Regions from separate parts of the Homo sapiens genome. Here region 2 is linked to region 1. Evidence: fine-mapped expression QTL. Tissue or cell type: whole blood. Region 1 holds a variant in brackets; the other region holds the start of a gene. All regions are shown on one strand. Distances are between the middles of the regions.

Region 1 (8,108 bases):
AAAAAAACCAAGATTACCTAAAAGCACTAACCAAAGGAAAACTCCCTCACCTCAACCCGTGACTGCTCACATTTTTCAGATTGAATAATTTCAATTGTATTTTAAGGTTGACTCTTTACCACCTCCAAGCTGCTCCTGAACACAACTATTATTTTTTAATTTTGAAAAATTTTTCACTTCTAGAATTTCCACTTGAGGCTTTGTTATTACTGTAGTTTCTTCTTCTCTGCTGTGATTTTCTATCCATTTATTATAAGAGTTTTTGGGGTTTTGATTTTAGTAAGAATTATAATAACTACTTTAAAAAATCCATACTAATTCCAACATCTCGGTCGTCTCGAGGTCAGTCTCGATTGATTGCCTTTTTCTTTGAATATGTTTCTTGGTATGTTTGATATAATGGGATTGAATCCTGAAGATTGTAAAAACTGGATATTTTTTGTTCCTCTGAAAATTGATAATTTTTTGTATTTTTTTTTCTATTGTATACTTTACATTTTCCTCCAAGGGTTTTAACATTTCTAGTTCTCAAAACATTTACATTTATGTTAAAAATTATACAAAGTAGCTTGGTACAGTGGCTCCCATCTGTAATCCCAGCACTTTGAGAGGCCAAGGCAGGAGGGTCACTCGAGTCCAGGACTTGGAAACCAGCCTAGACAACAGGACAAGACCTTGTCTCCACAAAAAATTATTAGGGTGATACAAAAAGTAATTGCAGGTTTTGCCATTACTTTCAATGGCAAAACCCACAATTCCTCTTGCACCAACCTGATAAAAAATAAGCTGGGTATGGTGGTGGTATGTGCCGGTGGTCTCAGCTATTTGGGAAGTGAAGGCAGAGGTGGGAGGATTGCTTGAGCCCAGGAGTTCCAGACCACCCTGAGACCCTGTCTCTACGGGGAAAAAAAAAAAAAAAAAAAAAAATTAGCTGGGCCCACGTACCTGTGGTACTAGCTACTTGGGAGGCAAAGGCAGAGGTGCCAGAATCACTTGAGCCCAGAAGCTCAAGGCTGCAGGGCACTGTGATTGTGCCACTGCACTCCAGCCTAAGTGATGGAGCATGACCCTGACTCCAGATAATAATAATAATTACAAAAAGGAAAGACCTAGAACACCAGGTTAAAGTATTCTAAAATTTAGCTGACTTACTCTGCTCTCTATAAAACAGGGTTGCCACAGAAAATATAGCATGCCCAGTTAATTTTAAATTTCAGATAAACAAATACTTTTTTCAGTGTAAGTATACCCCATGCAATATTTGGGATATGCTTATACTAAAACTTATTCTTTGTTTATCTGAAATTGAAATTTAACTGGGTATTACATAATTATAGCAGCCTGACCATAAAAGATATGTAGGCTGAGCAAAATTCTACTTTAAACTTCAAGCTTTATAATAAATGCATTATTAATCAACAACTATTATTTACTGAGACCTGTGTAGATCCCCATATTTATTTTTAAATGTGGAACTAGGAAATCTATATAAAGAACATTTATAGAAATGAATGACTGTTCTATAGAGCTGAAAGGAAAACTCTAGCTTTTATTTTTCTCCCCAAACTTAAGCTTTATTTTACATTTGTATAAACAATAAAATTACCACTCAACTTTGGAAGCACAGATCATAATATGAAAATAAAGCAAAGATCCCAGAAACATTTAACAGGCAACAAATCTTTGACATCATCTTACTATAGCAACTAAACGTATAATAATTTAGAACGATCCATTAATTATAAGAATAAATTCTTTTACAAAGCATAACTATTAATATTATTTGACCATCATAAGAACAAACATTTTAACTAAAACACCATGAATACTTTACAGAAAGGGGCGAGTTGCAGACACAGTCCTTCTTGGATTTCTTTTAACACCAGGCTTTCTTCCCTTTTGACCTGAGCTGGGAGTTGAATATTTCCTCTCTTTGCCCTCTGACCCTCTAGTCTCTGAAGCATCTTTTGTACTAGAGGTGTGTGCAGAGACTTCCTGGAAATTTGGATCTGTAAATTGTGCTGTTGTATCTTCTAAGCACTGCAGTGATCTGGATATAGAGCTGTTGCTCTTGCTTGTATAAGTGTAATATTCTGATTCAAAAAAGGAAGTGAAAGGAAGGGAGTTGATTACATTTGGCTACAGAAAAAAAAAGATGACACTAATAATAAAAATAAATAATAATTGTACTTGTAATATAAACATCTGAAAGTTTTAGTTCTAAGAATGGCAGTCCACATAAGAAAATTAGGTAAAAATAATTAATATCTATTATAATTATTTTTCTTTAACCAAAGAAAAAGTATAATTTAAAGATGGCTGTTTAAGCATCAAATTGCAGCCATTGGTAAAAGTAGATATTAGTCATATTTATTAAGTGACACACAGTGATACTGAAGGCACTTGTTTCTCAGCAACATCATTTTTTCCCCAATAAGAACGTACTGCATCCTAGACGTGAAATGAAAATAAGCTTTAATTTTCACCACAGGAGGGCGACAACCAGAGAACTGAGGGGGTACAGATCCATTAGAGGACCATATCCATGAGCTTAAAATGCTCTACTGTAAGAGCAAGAATTTTTAAAGAATCTCGGTGAAGGCTCCTTTTCAAAAAAGCACAAAGATTAAAGCCTTTGAAATGTAAATTATTTTTTGCAGTTATTACATTGAGGACAAAGTTATAGTCGCAAAGTTAAGATTTTTATAACTATCCCTAAAATTGATCCTCAGTGACTCCTTGATCTACATATGTTAAGGAAAAAGGCAAGACACAGATATGTTTAAATAGTTTCCAATTTTCAGTAATCAGCTTCAATATAAGGTATACCCAAATAATGGTGAATTAAATGACCATGAAAGCACGTTATAGCAGATGCCCGCTCATCAATATGCCTTGAAATTAAAGGTTTATAAGGTGCATAAGGGCAAAGGTTTTGATGTTGCCATTACATTCGCAAAAGTATGTGAGGCACGTACAGCATGAAGTTCACTAAGTGCTTGCAACATAACCAGCACTAAATTTTGTTGAATAAATAAATGAATACTTTTGTATAGCATCTGTTCAAAATCTGATGTAAAAATGAAAATAATCTGAAAATATGCAAAACTGAAATTTCCCACAGACGGCTGCCAATTCATACAAACCATAAGATGAATTTCAAAATGAGAACGTGACAATAAAATCAAGTTTCAAAATGGCTGGCCTTTTTTTTTTTTAGCAAAACCCATGTTCAAAAAAAGGAATAAGACATCAAATGTTTTGAGAACCAAAATTTTACTGCTGCTTTTCTAACACCCTGTTGCTAACCTGAGCCCCCATCCTCTTACTGTCAATAACAGATTTTCATCATCAAACACAAGAAACACGCTGGGCACAGTGGCTCACACCTGTAATCCCAGCACTTTGGGAGACTGAGGCGGGTGGATCACTTGAGGTCAGGAGTTTGAGACCAGCCTGGCCGACAGGGTGAAACCTCATCTCTACTGAAAATACAAAAATTAGCTGGGTGTGGTGGTGGGCGCCTGTAATCCCAGCTACTCGGGAGGCTGAGGCAGGAGAATCGCTTGAACCTGGGAGGTGGAGGTTGCAGTGAACTGAGATCGAGCCACTGTACTCCAGCCTGGGTGACAGAGCAAGACTCTGCCTTAAAA[A/G]AAAAAGATAAAAATACAATAAACATCTCATAAAAACAAAATAATCACTATTCTAACAAACCACAGTCCACAAATAAGAAGTTTCAAAAAGTAAGTTTAAAAGAAAAAAATTTTTACCAACCACTCACTTTTAAGCTGATAAAACTGCATGGCTTCCTTAAGAAACAAGAATCCCTTCGATGCTGAGCAGGTCAGTTTGGAAACCACCCCACCTCATTTTTCAGTACTTTTTTCCAAATACTTGAGTTGATCCTGAGGTTCTCTATTTCTCTCACATTTGATCCTTGCATGACTTACTGAAGTTGAAAAGTTATTTAAGAAGACACAGTGGTGTTCTTCACTCATGTAATTTGTTCATGTATCAAATAAAGGATGGAGAGAAAACTGGATGAAATACCAGAAGTTAAGAGATACATCAAAAACAGTACCATGAGGGAAAAATTTATAGCTATAAATGATTATAAAACATAAGATACTGAATCAACAACTTTACTCCTAAGGAACTAAAAACAGAGGGAAAAAGAGGGACAACTAAAAGCTAGCAAAATTTTAAAAATGATAAAGATAGCAGTGGAAATAAGTGAAATAGAGAACAGAAAAGCAATATCAAAAATCAACAAAACCAAGTTTATTCTCTGGAAAAGATCAAAACTGACAAAAATTTTATCTAGATTGACTAAGAAAAAAAGGGAATACTCAAATTACGAAACTCAGAAGAAAAATGGGTACATTACTAACAAATTTTTGGAGTAAAAAAAGGATGTAGGAGAGTACCATAAGGAACTATACACTAAAAAATTGAATAACCTAAATAAAATGAACAAATTCCTAGAAACAAAAAACCTACTAAGACTGAATCAGAAAAGTTGAATAAACCTATTCAGCAAGGAGATTCAGCAGGAAGATGGCATAAGTAATCAAAAACCCAGCAACAAAGAAAAGCCTGGACCAGATGGCTTCACTGTTGAATTCTACCCAACGTTTAAAGCAGAATTAACACCAGTTTTTCTCAAACTTTTTCAAAACGTTGAAGAGGAGGTAATGTTTTCTAACTTATTCTATGAGGCCAGTATTACCTTGACACCAAGCCAGACAAAGGCACCATAAGAAAACTACAAACAAACATCCCTTACAAATGCTGATGCAAAAATCCTCAACAAAATACCAGCAACTCAAACTTAGCAGTACACTAAAAGGATTATACACTATGAATGAGTATAATTGACTCCTGAAATAAAAGTATATTCCAACACATGAAAATCAGCGTAATATCACATTAACATAAAGAAGGAAAAAAGCCTCATGTGATCACATTTTAATCAAAGAAGAAAAAGCATTTGTCAAAATTTAACCCACATTCATGATAAAATGTACTTAATAAACTATAAAAAGAAAGAAAACACTTTAACATAATGTCATACAAAAAACAAAAACACAGCTAATGTGGTGAAAGACTGAAAGCTTTTACCCTAAGAGCAAAAACAAGGATGCCTGCTTTTACTACTTCTGTTTAATATAGTACTGAGGATTCTAGTTAGTTAAAACATGAGTAAAAGAATAAAAGATATTCCAATTTTTTTAAAAGTAAAATTATCTGTTTGCAGATGACATAACCTTATATATTAAAAATCTTTTGGTTTCTGTGAAATAAACTGTCAGATACAATAAACAAAATTCAGCAAAGCTGCAGGATACAAAATCAATACACAAAAATCAGTTGTATTTCTACAATAACAATAAACTATCTGAAGAAGAAATCAAGACAACAGTATCATGTATGATAGCATCAAAAGAATAAAATACTTAGAAACCCACTTAACCAAGAAAATGAAAAACCTGTACAGCAAAAACTATAAACATGGCATGAACGTATTAAAGATGACAAATAAATGAAAAGACATCATGTGTTTATGGACTGGAAGACAAAACCTTGTCAAGATGCCATTGTTATCTATAGTCATCTACAGATTCAATAAAATCACTATAAAAATTCCAATATTTGCAAAAATAGAAAAACCTATTCTAAAATTCAGATGAAATCTCAAAAAATCCCAAGTAGCCAAATCAATCTTAAAAACTAACAAAGTTAGAGGACTAACACCTCCTGGTTTCAAACTTACTGCAATGCTTCAGTACCCAAAACTTGTACCAGCATAGAGACAGAGACAAAGACCAATGCGATAGAAATAAAGAACCAAAAAATATGGTCATGATTTTTAACACAGGAGTCAACACTATTCAATGGGAAACGATGGTATTTTTTGAATGGTGTTTAAAATGGATATTTACATATACCCATATGTATGTATATATCCCAAATTAGCTTTTTGTCTGTCATGTATGTGGCAGATCTATTTCCCCAGTCTGTTGACTTTTGACTTAGAGGCATTTTTCTCTCACACAAAGTTTCAATTTTTATGGAGTCAAATACATCAGTCTTCTATTCAGTGACTTCTTCATGGGAATGGTGTTTGATTTTAGGATGATAAAGAAGTTGTAGATATGGATAAATTAGATAAACTAGATGGTTGGACAACACTGAATATACTGGATGCCACAGAACTGTACATTTAAACATGGTTAAAATGGTAAGTTTTATGTTGTGTATATTTTACCACCAAAAAAGGGCCAGGCTTAGATGTTTACATGTTAGGGGTTTGGAGTACCTCTAACATTTATTCCCCTCCAGGGGAATAATTTATAAACACCCACACAAGAAAAGTAGATACTGACTTCACAAATCTCCTTACAAGTCCCACAGCAAGGGCTGTCTGGGAAAGCAGAGATGGAAAAAGTCACATAAACTTGAGGTCAGTGTGAGACCTCCCATCCCCTACTCTGGAATCAGATGGAGGAAGGCAGGTATGCAGGCTGAGCTGGAGAGATGAGCTGGGGTGGGCAGAACTGTCCTCCCATGAGCCCAGACCTTAACTGCTCCCACATGCTCCCAGGCATGTATCAAACCAAGAAAGCGGCTAGGAGGGTAACACAGCTACCTGTATACAGGGAGCCATGAAATATCTGAGCTGCGCAAGTGATGCACAAGGAGATGGAAGCAGTCTGACCTTTACACAGTGACCTGGCTCAAATAATTTCAGGCTCTCAATCAGGCGAGCTCCACTTTCTCTCTGAGGTAGGTAAACTTGAGGGGTTTAAGTGGGAGTTGAGGATAATGGAAAAGAAAGCCTGGTAGTATTTCTTCTAATTCTGTTATAAATAAAAAGTAAAACAAATGCCTTTTCTCAGGGCCCAAATGTTAGGTGAAAAAATGTCATCTCAGTCATGTGATGTGGACTTCAGCAGAGCAGTACCCTCATGGTCATTTATCCTTTCCCTCTGCATGTTGTGTGCTTTTTCAGTTTACAATGTACCTGATCCACTTGTCTCATCACACTAGCTGCAAACAAGGCCACTGCATGTCACACCAGGTGGCCAGCATGTCTGTGAAGGGCAGAAACGGGGGCAGCCAAACAGCTGGCAGAGGCCAGCTAGTAAGTACCTGATGCCCACTCCATAGAGGACTCCACACTTAAAAGACAAGATAAGCAAGTGTCAGGCTGCCTCACTAGTTATCCCCCCAAATAAAAAAATAAAAGTAACCCCTCCAGGGAACATGTTTGTGTGTACACAAAGTACATGCACACAGCTACATGCAAACGGGAAAGGCTGGGAAGGAACCAAATCCACCTCTGAACACCAGTTACTTGTGGGGAAGGGGCACGTGAAGCCAACTGTCAGCATTACTCACCTTTTCAACTGATGAGCTTGCATCAATTTTGGCAATTTCTCATAAAAAGACAATTTTCACTCCTTGGGTGATCACCCAGGTCCTGCAAAACTGAGCCACCAACAACCACCTGCACCACTTCCCATGAGGCCAAATAATGGCTTCCCTCAAAGCTCAGCCCTCCCACCCACCTCCCAGTCCTGTACCGTGCAGGGGGGCTGCCGGCCTCCTGGGGTGCAGGGGGGCTGCCGGCCTCCTGGGGTGCAGGGGTCCAGGCCAAACCCAACCTACAGATGGTTGGTGAAACCAGCACGTATCCAAGGGCCTTTTCCCCACCTGTGCCATGTGCCGACTGCATAGATAGGCCTGTGCTTGCTCCCCCTAGGACAGAGATTCCCTTTTCTTCCATTGGAATGAGGGGTGGGGAGATTTGATGGTATTCTGTACAGGTTGGATGTTAATCTGATGTGGTGCTCTTGGAAAAGCTTGCCTGAGTTCGGCGCTTTCTCAGCACATGGTGTGTGCTGCCCCTTCAAGCTGCAGAAACCCCAGAAGGTAAGTGCTAACTGCAACCCCCATTTACTGGTGAGCAGAGGTCAGGTGATCTGCAGCCAGCCAAGCAGCTGCTAAGTGGCCAACAGGCTGGATCTGCATCTCACTTGCAGAGGCCCTGCCTGGCTGCTGGGACTGCCCTGAGACTCCCTCCTCCTCCTCCTCTTCCCTCCACA
Region 2 (8,108 bases), 35 kb before region 1:
TGGCCTCCGGCTGCATCCATGTTGTTTCAAAGGACATGATTTTGTTATTTTTATGGCTGCATAGTATTCCGTGGTGTATGAAATGGTTTGGAAGGTGGCCCCTATAAATCTCATGATGAAATGTAATCCTCAGTGTTGGAGGTGGGGCCTGGTAGGGTCATGGGGATGGATCTCTCATGGCCTGATGCCGTCCTTGTGATAGTGAATTCTTTCAAGATCTGGTTGTGTAAGGGTGTGTGGTACTTACCCCCACTCCCATTTTCTCTTGCTCCTCCTCGGACCATGTGATGTGCCTACTCCCTCTGTGCCTTCCATCATGAGTAAAAGCTCCCTGGGGCCTCCACAGGCGCCATGCAGATGCCATCACCATGCTTCCTGTACAGCCTGCAGAGATGTGAGCCAATTAAATCTCTTTTCCTTATAAATTACCCAGCCTCAGGTATTTCTTCATAGCAATGCAAGAATGGCCTAATCATACTGTGTAGATGTACCACATTTTATTGATCCAATCCACTGTCGATGGGCACCTAGGCTGACTCCATGTCTTTGCTATTGTGAATAGTGCTGCGATGAACATGCAAGTGCATATGTCTTTTTGGTAGAATAACTGATTCTCTTTGGGTTATATACCAGTAATGGAATTGTTGGCTTGAATGGTAATTCTATTTTAAATGCTTTGAGAAATTTCCAAACCGCTTTGAACAGTGGCTGAACTAATTTACATTTGCACCAATTATGTGTAAATGTTCCCCTTTCTCCACAGCCTCCCAAGATCTGTTGTTTTTCAATTTTTGAATAGTAGCTATTCTGACTGGTGTAGGATGGTATCTCGTTTTGGTTTTGATTTGCATTTCTCTGATGATTAGTGATGTTAAGACTAATCTTTGCCACCAAAAAACTAGGAAAATACAGTGTCACTTGTCAAAATAAATTGTTTTACTTTGCTTTAAAAATAATCAATTGAGTAGTATATTTCTTCCAGCAAAATTAAGAAGTAAACATTTAGAATTGTACAGTACCTTGCTGTTAAGTCTTCGCACAAGTATACCAATCGAACATAAAGGCCACCTTAAACTTTCATTTGAAATGAAAGACAATTTTTAAGAGGTTAAGGGCTAGTAATTTCTTAAAGTCCTGAAGTTAAATTAGCTCAAGTAAATGCAAAGACTTTCCTTTAATTAAAGACTTTTAAATGAACACTTTAAAGCATAGTTGGTTTCTCCCTCAAATCTTGTCCAAAGCCACTGTTTACAACTCAGCATATCAAAGAAGGCTTCAGACATGATTGTGAAGCTCCCTCAACTTACAGTGTGCTATTTGCAACCTTAGATGCTATCATTCTGGCTTTTCTAACTTTTAGCAACAATAAGCACACCCTTCTCATTTCTCCCCCACCCTGACTTACCCCTCTTTTCATTTAATATACAATTTTTCTCAGAGTGTTCTTACACATCTTTAACTGTAAATATGACAAAAGCACACAGTATAGTACATTTATCACATGTATAAATGCTGTATCTAGTCATACAATTTTCCTTTTAAAAAAGAAATATTTTATTTTCAAAAAGCAAAGACTCTAGGAATCTTTTCTAGCTGCCAGTCATAAAAACATAAATTCCTGGTTAGTTTCCCAAATTTGCCTGACCATAAGAACCACTTGTGATACTTGTCAAACACATGTATGCTGAGTCCCATCCATGATCTCCTGAATCAGAATCACCAGGTGAGAGGCCTGGGAATACACATTTTAAACAAATGTCCACAGTGATTATGATTAGTAAAGCTTGAAAAACATTTCACTAGGATCTTTATGACTGAATAACCTCACAAACATAGGAAAGTTACTGGAAAAAAATATGAGCAGAATTTCAGAATTCTGCCTTTGCTGAAAGTGTTTGTTCCCTCCTCCTCTACTCATCAAGACCTGACTGCTTATGCAACTCCCCCAAACCATCAATGGGAAGAGCTGAAAATGATTTTAATGAAGAAGAAAAGCTGATGTTTAATTTCAAAACTGACGGTTTGAATAGAAGGGAGAGGCATGAATTTATCTTGATTCTAACAGAAAGCATTGTATTTGGGTCTACAAACGAAATTGGTTTCATTTTTATTTTTTGTAAGTTTTCGCCAAACTCTGTGCATATATAGAGGCTGGGCAAGAAAGAAAGAAATCCAGAAATACGGCATATGCCATCCCTTATTTATTTCCCCATGCGACCAGCCAACAGCTTCTTCACCTAGTCCCTGCTTCAAGCTGACTTTCAGTCTACTTCTCTATCGGAAATGGAGCTTCCCCAAAGACTGCCTCAATGTCAGTTACCCAGAGGCCTTTTTTCCATCTTGGGCTCCTAAACTTCTATGATATTAAATGATACTACCCTTTCTGGAAATTCTCCTTAGCTTTGATTTCTATAATTTAACTCTGTTTCATTCCTTCTTTTATAGCCTTTCTTTTCTCTATCCCTTTACTGTAGACATATTGTACGACTTTGTTCTTGACCTTCTGATCTCTCCACATTCATTCCTTCAGAGCATGTATCCATTTTCTTGGTGTCAGGCTTCCTGACTATCTGATTATTACCATCATATAACGATGTTGGTGATGAGCATAGCTAACATATCCTAGGCATTTTCCATGTAGGTTATAATAAGCACCCTATATAACTCGTACCATTTAATTCTTCAACCCTAAATGATACTATTACTAACCACATTGTATGAGACGAGGAAACAGATTTTCATCAAAACCCTGGAAAGCCAACGTGAGGAGCCCCTGTGTGTCTCCTTTGTTAATGACTCCGGGCATCATGGCATGTGGATTGCCATGGAATGGGGATTAGGAAGCGCAGCACTGTGAAAACACCAGAAAATACGTTGATAGCGGTAAGGACGCTCATCTCTGCACATTGTGACGGTTTTGTTTCTGAGTCAGGTTTGAGATGAGCCAATCCTGACTCCATGGTGCCACCAGGGATCACGAATTTAATAAGATCTTCGTGGATGCTTGGAACCCAACTGGTCTCGGTTTTCTACTTTAGGGAAAGAGCCACAGCTTGAGTGGGGTGGTTTTGGTGTCACATACGCGATTAATAACACCCACCGCTGCAGAGGAATCACCGTGGACTACTCCTCCTTTCATCCCATGCTCTTGCGATGGATCCCTCTCACCTGTTTACTGATTTCATTCAAATTCTTCAGCGACCACAGGACCCCGACTTGCCTTCTCTATCCTGGTTCCCTCACTCTGCTTTACAGGCCTGGCCTGCTCGCTGCTCCTCACACCAGCGCTGCACGGCTCCCTCCACGCCTCCGCCCTGTTTCCTCCATCAGACAGGACTAGCTTCCTCCATCTCTGTCGGGCAAATGCCTGCCCAGCCTTCAAGACCCTCCTCAGATGCCGCCTCCACGATTAGGCTTCTTTCAGACCCCTGAGCCTGTAACACGGGCTACCATAACTCTCCACCTCAGCCCACATTCCCACAGCACTCGCGACGTCCGCGACCCTCAACATGGCGCTTCATTCTCTTTTAGGGTATTTCCTGCTTGTTTCCTGCACACACAGTCGCGCGAGGCGCAGTCCTGAGTGACCCACGCACGAGTGGCCCGCGCTTCCAGCCGCGCCGCCGCAGGCCAGCGAGGGCAGCCTGAGCCGCTTCCCGCCCCGGCGAGGACCGTCGCCAGCCCGCTGCTCTAGCAGGAGGCGGTTCCACAGCGCACCCGGCAGCCCAGCCACCGTCAGCACCGCGCCTCGGGCGGGCTTTTCTCCCTTCCGGGAGGCGCGAATCCTCAGGGGCTCCTTGAGAGGGCGCCAGGGAGCAGCTGCGCGCGGATGCCTTTTGGCCCTCTGCGGCCGCCGTAGCTCCCCGGCAGAAACCCGGAAGTGGAACTCTGAGCCATTCAGCGTTTGGGTGAAGACGGAGGCGGGTTCTACAGAGACGTAGGCTGTCAGGGAGTGTTTATTTCGCGTCCGCTTCTGTTTCTCCGCGCCCCTGTGCTGCCCCGACTCACATACTCGTCCAGAACCGGCCTCAGCCTCTCCGCGCAGAAGTTTCCCGGAGCCATGGCCGAGTACTCCTACGTGAAGTCTACCAAGCTCGTGCTCAAGGGAACCAAGACGAAGAGGTGGGTCCTGCAGCTTGGGCGGGAGCCTCCTCCGTTCTTTTCGGACGCACTCCACCCCCGCAACTCCGGTGGAAGCCGTGGCGCGGAGAGCCGGCTTTGTGGCCTCCCAGGCTTCGCCCTGGCCCCTGTCCGGGCTGGACGGAGGCCGGGCCGCGGTTCCCGGCGTCTGTGCAGAGAGGGGCAGCCTCCCGCGCGGACGACCCTGGAAACAGGATAGACGGGCAGGTGACCCGTGACCCCGTACCCACGAGTTTGGGTCCCCTGAGGCATCTCTCCAGGCCTCTGCCTGGGGGGTCTGCATTAGTCTGATCTCGTAGTTCATGATAATTTCCTTTATTAGGGATTATTATTTTCTCCATTGTCTCTTTTCTTTCTAGAAAACTTATTAATTTTTTCTAATCTAATATGTACAGTGAAACCAGGATGAATCACACAGTGGTTGAGGTGTATATGGGCTTTAGGGATATGGGCTCGAACCTGCACTCTTGTCATTTACTAGTTTTGTAATTTGTGGCAAATTGGTTAATATGTCTGAACTTCCATTTACTCATTAAGAGATCAAATATCTGAACCTCCGTTTACACATTTATACTTTCAGACGTTTTTTATACTTTTAGAAGACTGTGAGGATTAAATGAGAGAACATATATGCAGAAAATAAATTGAGCCAAATGTGAGGAGGAGGTCGTAATGGTAATTTATTAGCTTTTTAGGAAAAAATACCTGTGCACTCATATCCCCGCTTCTTTTTTAACTGGCAGATTTGCCCGAGGTACATACAAATGTCGAGTATTTCCTCCTGGTCTCCGTGATAAACAGAGGTTTTGATATTTTTAGGCGAGATAGAAAGTATCAAGGAGTGAGTTGAAGCCACTGGCCTTGAGAACCCTCTCGAGGAGTCTGGCCTCATGAAGATGCCAGAATAAATGGCAGGTTTATCCTGAATGAATGTGAGATTTTTACTCTGTGAATTTCCTGGGAGGAGAGGAGAGTTATCTTCTGAAAACTTTATAATGAAAATGCAGACACGGGTGTCTTAAGATCATCGTAATAATCATAATTAATGCTCATATAGCACTGTCAATGTGCCAAGAAATTGTTGTAGGCACTTTGCACATTAACTTTTTTTCAAATCACTCTTGGTTTTTTATTTTTTTATTGAGATATAATTCATAATTATAAAATTCACCCTTTTGTACAGTCAGGGGTTTTTAGTATATATTCAAGAGGTTCACCACTGTCTAGTTGCTCAGCATTTTCATCATCTCAGAAGGAAATCTCCCCCTACCCATTAAAGCAGTCACATCCCATCCTCCCCCTCTCCTAGTCCTTGGCAACCACTAATCCGCTCTCTATGTGAAATCGCCTATTCTGAATATTTCCTAAGAAATCATGCAACATGTGGCCTTTTGTATCTGGCTCCTTTCACTTATAACATTATTGAGGTTCATCATTGTTGTAGCGCCTGTTCCTTTTTATGGCTGCATAGTATTCCATTGTATGGATGTATCATTTTGTTCATCCATTCATCAACTGATGAACATTTGGGTTGTTTCCCCTTTTTGGCTATTGTGACTAATGCTAGTGTGAATATTCTTATGTAAGTATTTTTGTGGGTGTATGTTTTCATTTCCCTTGGGTATACATACTTAGGAGTAAAATTGCTGGGTCATGTGGTAACTTTAACTTTTTGAGGAACCCCAAACTGTTTCCTGTAGATGCTGCACCATTTTACATTTCCACCAGGAATGTGTGAAGGTACATATTACCTCTTAATCCTCACAATAGCCTTAAGAGTTAGGTTAAGTTACTATCCTAATTTTTTAAGTGGGGAAACTGACTCAGAGAGATTCAGTACCTTTTCCAAAAATCACGGAGCTAAGAAGTGAAAGAATCAGGATTTAAAATCTGGCAGTGTGGCTCTACAATCTGCTTTGAACTCTAACGTAATATGTGCAAAGCCTGAAGCAACTTCTCAGTACTGTATTTAAGAGGGCATATCAATGTAAGTCTTCCTAAATCAATAATTTATAAATGAAACAGCTTAAAAGACTTTCAAGTTTCAATCTTACAATATTTATCGTACAAATCAATATACCTAAACTCGTCTATATAAATTATGTCCTGTAGTAAGAAGAAAAAGAGCAAAGATAAGAAAAGAAAAAGAGAAGAAGATGAAGAAACCCAGCTTGATATTGTTGGTGAGTCAGTTTTCAGTGCTCTATTCTGAAAAAAGTTAATGTTTCTTGAGATCTCCTTGAAAGTGTTTTCCTAGTTAGAAATTTATGATGTATTCATATTTGTCTTAAAGTGCTTAAATATTACCTACAGTTATAAATTCCATTTATTCTTTAACACAGTAGATGCTACTGATGCCTTTACTTCATTATCAGGAGAGAAAAATTATAACTCTCTGACTTAGTAGGCACCATTAGACTGCTTAATAGCCAGAGATTCTAATACATAATTTTAAAGGCCTAATGTAAATGTTATTCAACCAAATATCTTTTACAAGTTATTTTCTTTGCACATGTATGCATTTTAATTGTAGAAGTCGGTTGTCTCTTAAAGGAAGTATCTTCACAGGAAAAATCATTATTTTGTGAACTCTGAAATGAATGAAAATTTTAAATACAACATCAGGGTAGCCTGTAAATGATACTAGAAATAAACTGACCTAAACACACTTAACCAGCCTGTTTTCCGTTTAGTTCTTTTCCATACATATTTTTTTCTCTTTTAAAACTTGGCAAGTTGCATTTTGAATCTTCATAAATTATGGTAACTTAATATATAAAATATGGAATGGTATAAAGCTAATGTTCTGGAAGAATCATTGCTTTCAAAATGGCAAATCAACAATTCTAAAATTAGGGTAAATATCTAGGGTAGATATGTAGATGTGGAATTGCTGTGTCAAAGGATAGGTGAATGTTTAACTATATAAGAAAATGCCAAAAGTTTTCTAAAGTGGTTGTGCCATTTTACCCTCCTACCAAGAATGAATTAGTGCTCCAGTTACATCCTTGCCAAGAGTTGATGGTGTTATCAGTCTTTTCTCCCAGTCTGAGTTTTACCTTTTCAGTTTCTTAATGGTGGTTTTTGGATGAGCAGCTTTTTTTTGAGACAAATTCTCACTCTGTCTCCCAAGCTGGAATGCAGTGATGCGATCTCGGTTCACTGCAAGCTCCACCTCCCGGGTTCATGCCATTCTGCTGCCTCAGCCTCCCGAGTAGCTGGGAGTGCAGGTGCCTGCCACCACACCCGGCTAATTTTTTGTGTTTTTAGTAGCAACAGGGTTTCACCATGTTAGCCAGGATGGTCAGAAGCTTTTAATTTTTATAAAGCTCAGTTTATTTTTTTTTTCTTTTATGGTTACTGTCTTATGTCTTTGATCTAAGAGATCTTTGCTTACCCCAAAGTCAGGAAAATATTCTACATTGTCTTTTAGAGGCATCATAGTTTTAGTTTTTACATTAAATCTGTCATTCATCTCAAATTAAATTTTGGCATGATGTTGTGAGTTCGGTTTCAAGATTTACTTTTTTTTTTTAAACATCTTGATAGCCAGTTGTGCCAGCACCACTGGTGTTTCCTTTTTCCATTAATCCACTTTGGTATCTTCATAAAAAATCAATTAACTTTCTATGTATTGGTCTGTTTCTGGACTCTGTTCTATCGATACGTTTGTCTGTTTTTCTGTTGGTATATTTCTCTTGATTGCTATAATTTCATGAAGTCTTGAGATCAGGTAGTGTGAGTCCTCCGACTTTGTACTTATTAACTGTTAATTTATTAATTTCTGCAGTGAAGTTTGTTGGATTTTCTCGAGAACTGTATTGAGTCCAGATCATTTGGGGGAGATCAACATCTTAATATTGGGCCTCAATATTTCATAATTTTCAATGTAGCCATCTTGCATGCCTGTTTAAACATTTATTCTTAAGTATTTTATAATTTTACATTACTGTCAATAGAACCTTTGA

The links. PIP is the estimated chance that this variant, and not a neighbour inherited with it, causes the effect.
Region 2: it holds the start of FRG1, and the variant in region 1 is the best candidate, but not a certain one, in a credible set for the expression of FRG1 in whole blood (TOPMed, PIP 0.79).

The regions. Positions count from the first base shown.
Region 1 is chr4:189,971,763-189,979,870 of GRCh38, forward strand. It overlaps the pseudogene MLLT10P2. Among named protein-coding and RNA genes, the nearest start is that of FRG1, 35 kb to the left of the region's middle. RefSeq lists a silencer at 3,464-3,634. The variant A/G (reference allele first, on the strand shown) is at 3,654.
Region 2 is chr4:189,936,950-189,945,057 of GRCh38, forward strand. FRG1 (FSHD region gene 1) reads left to right here and starts at 3,923. Exons shown (of 9, transcript NM_004477.3): 1 at 3,923-4,122; 2 at 6,253-6,323. The coding sequence starts at 4,061. It overlaps FRG1-DT (FRG1 divergent transcript), which reads right to left and starts at 3,784. Exons shown (of 4, transcript NR_149039.1): 1 at 2,710-3,784; 2 at 248-384. RefSeq lists an enhancer at 4,229-4,728.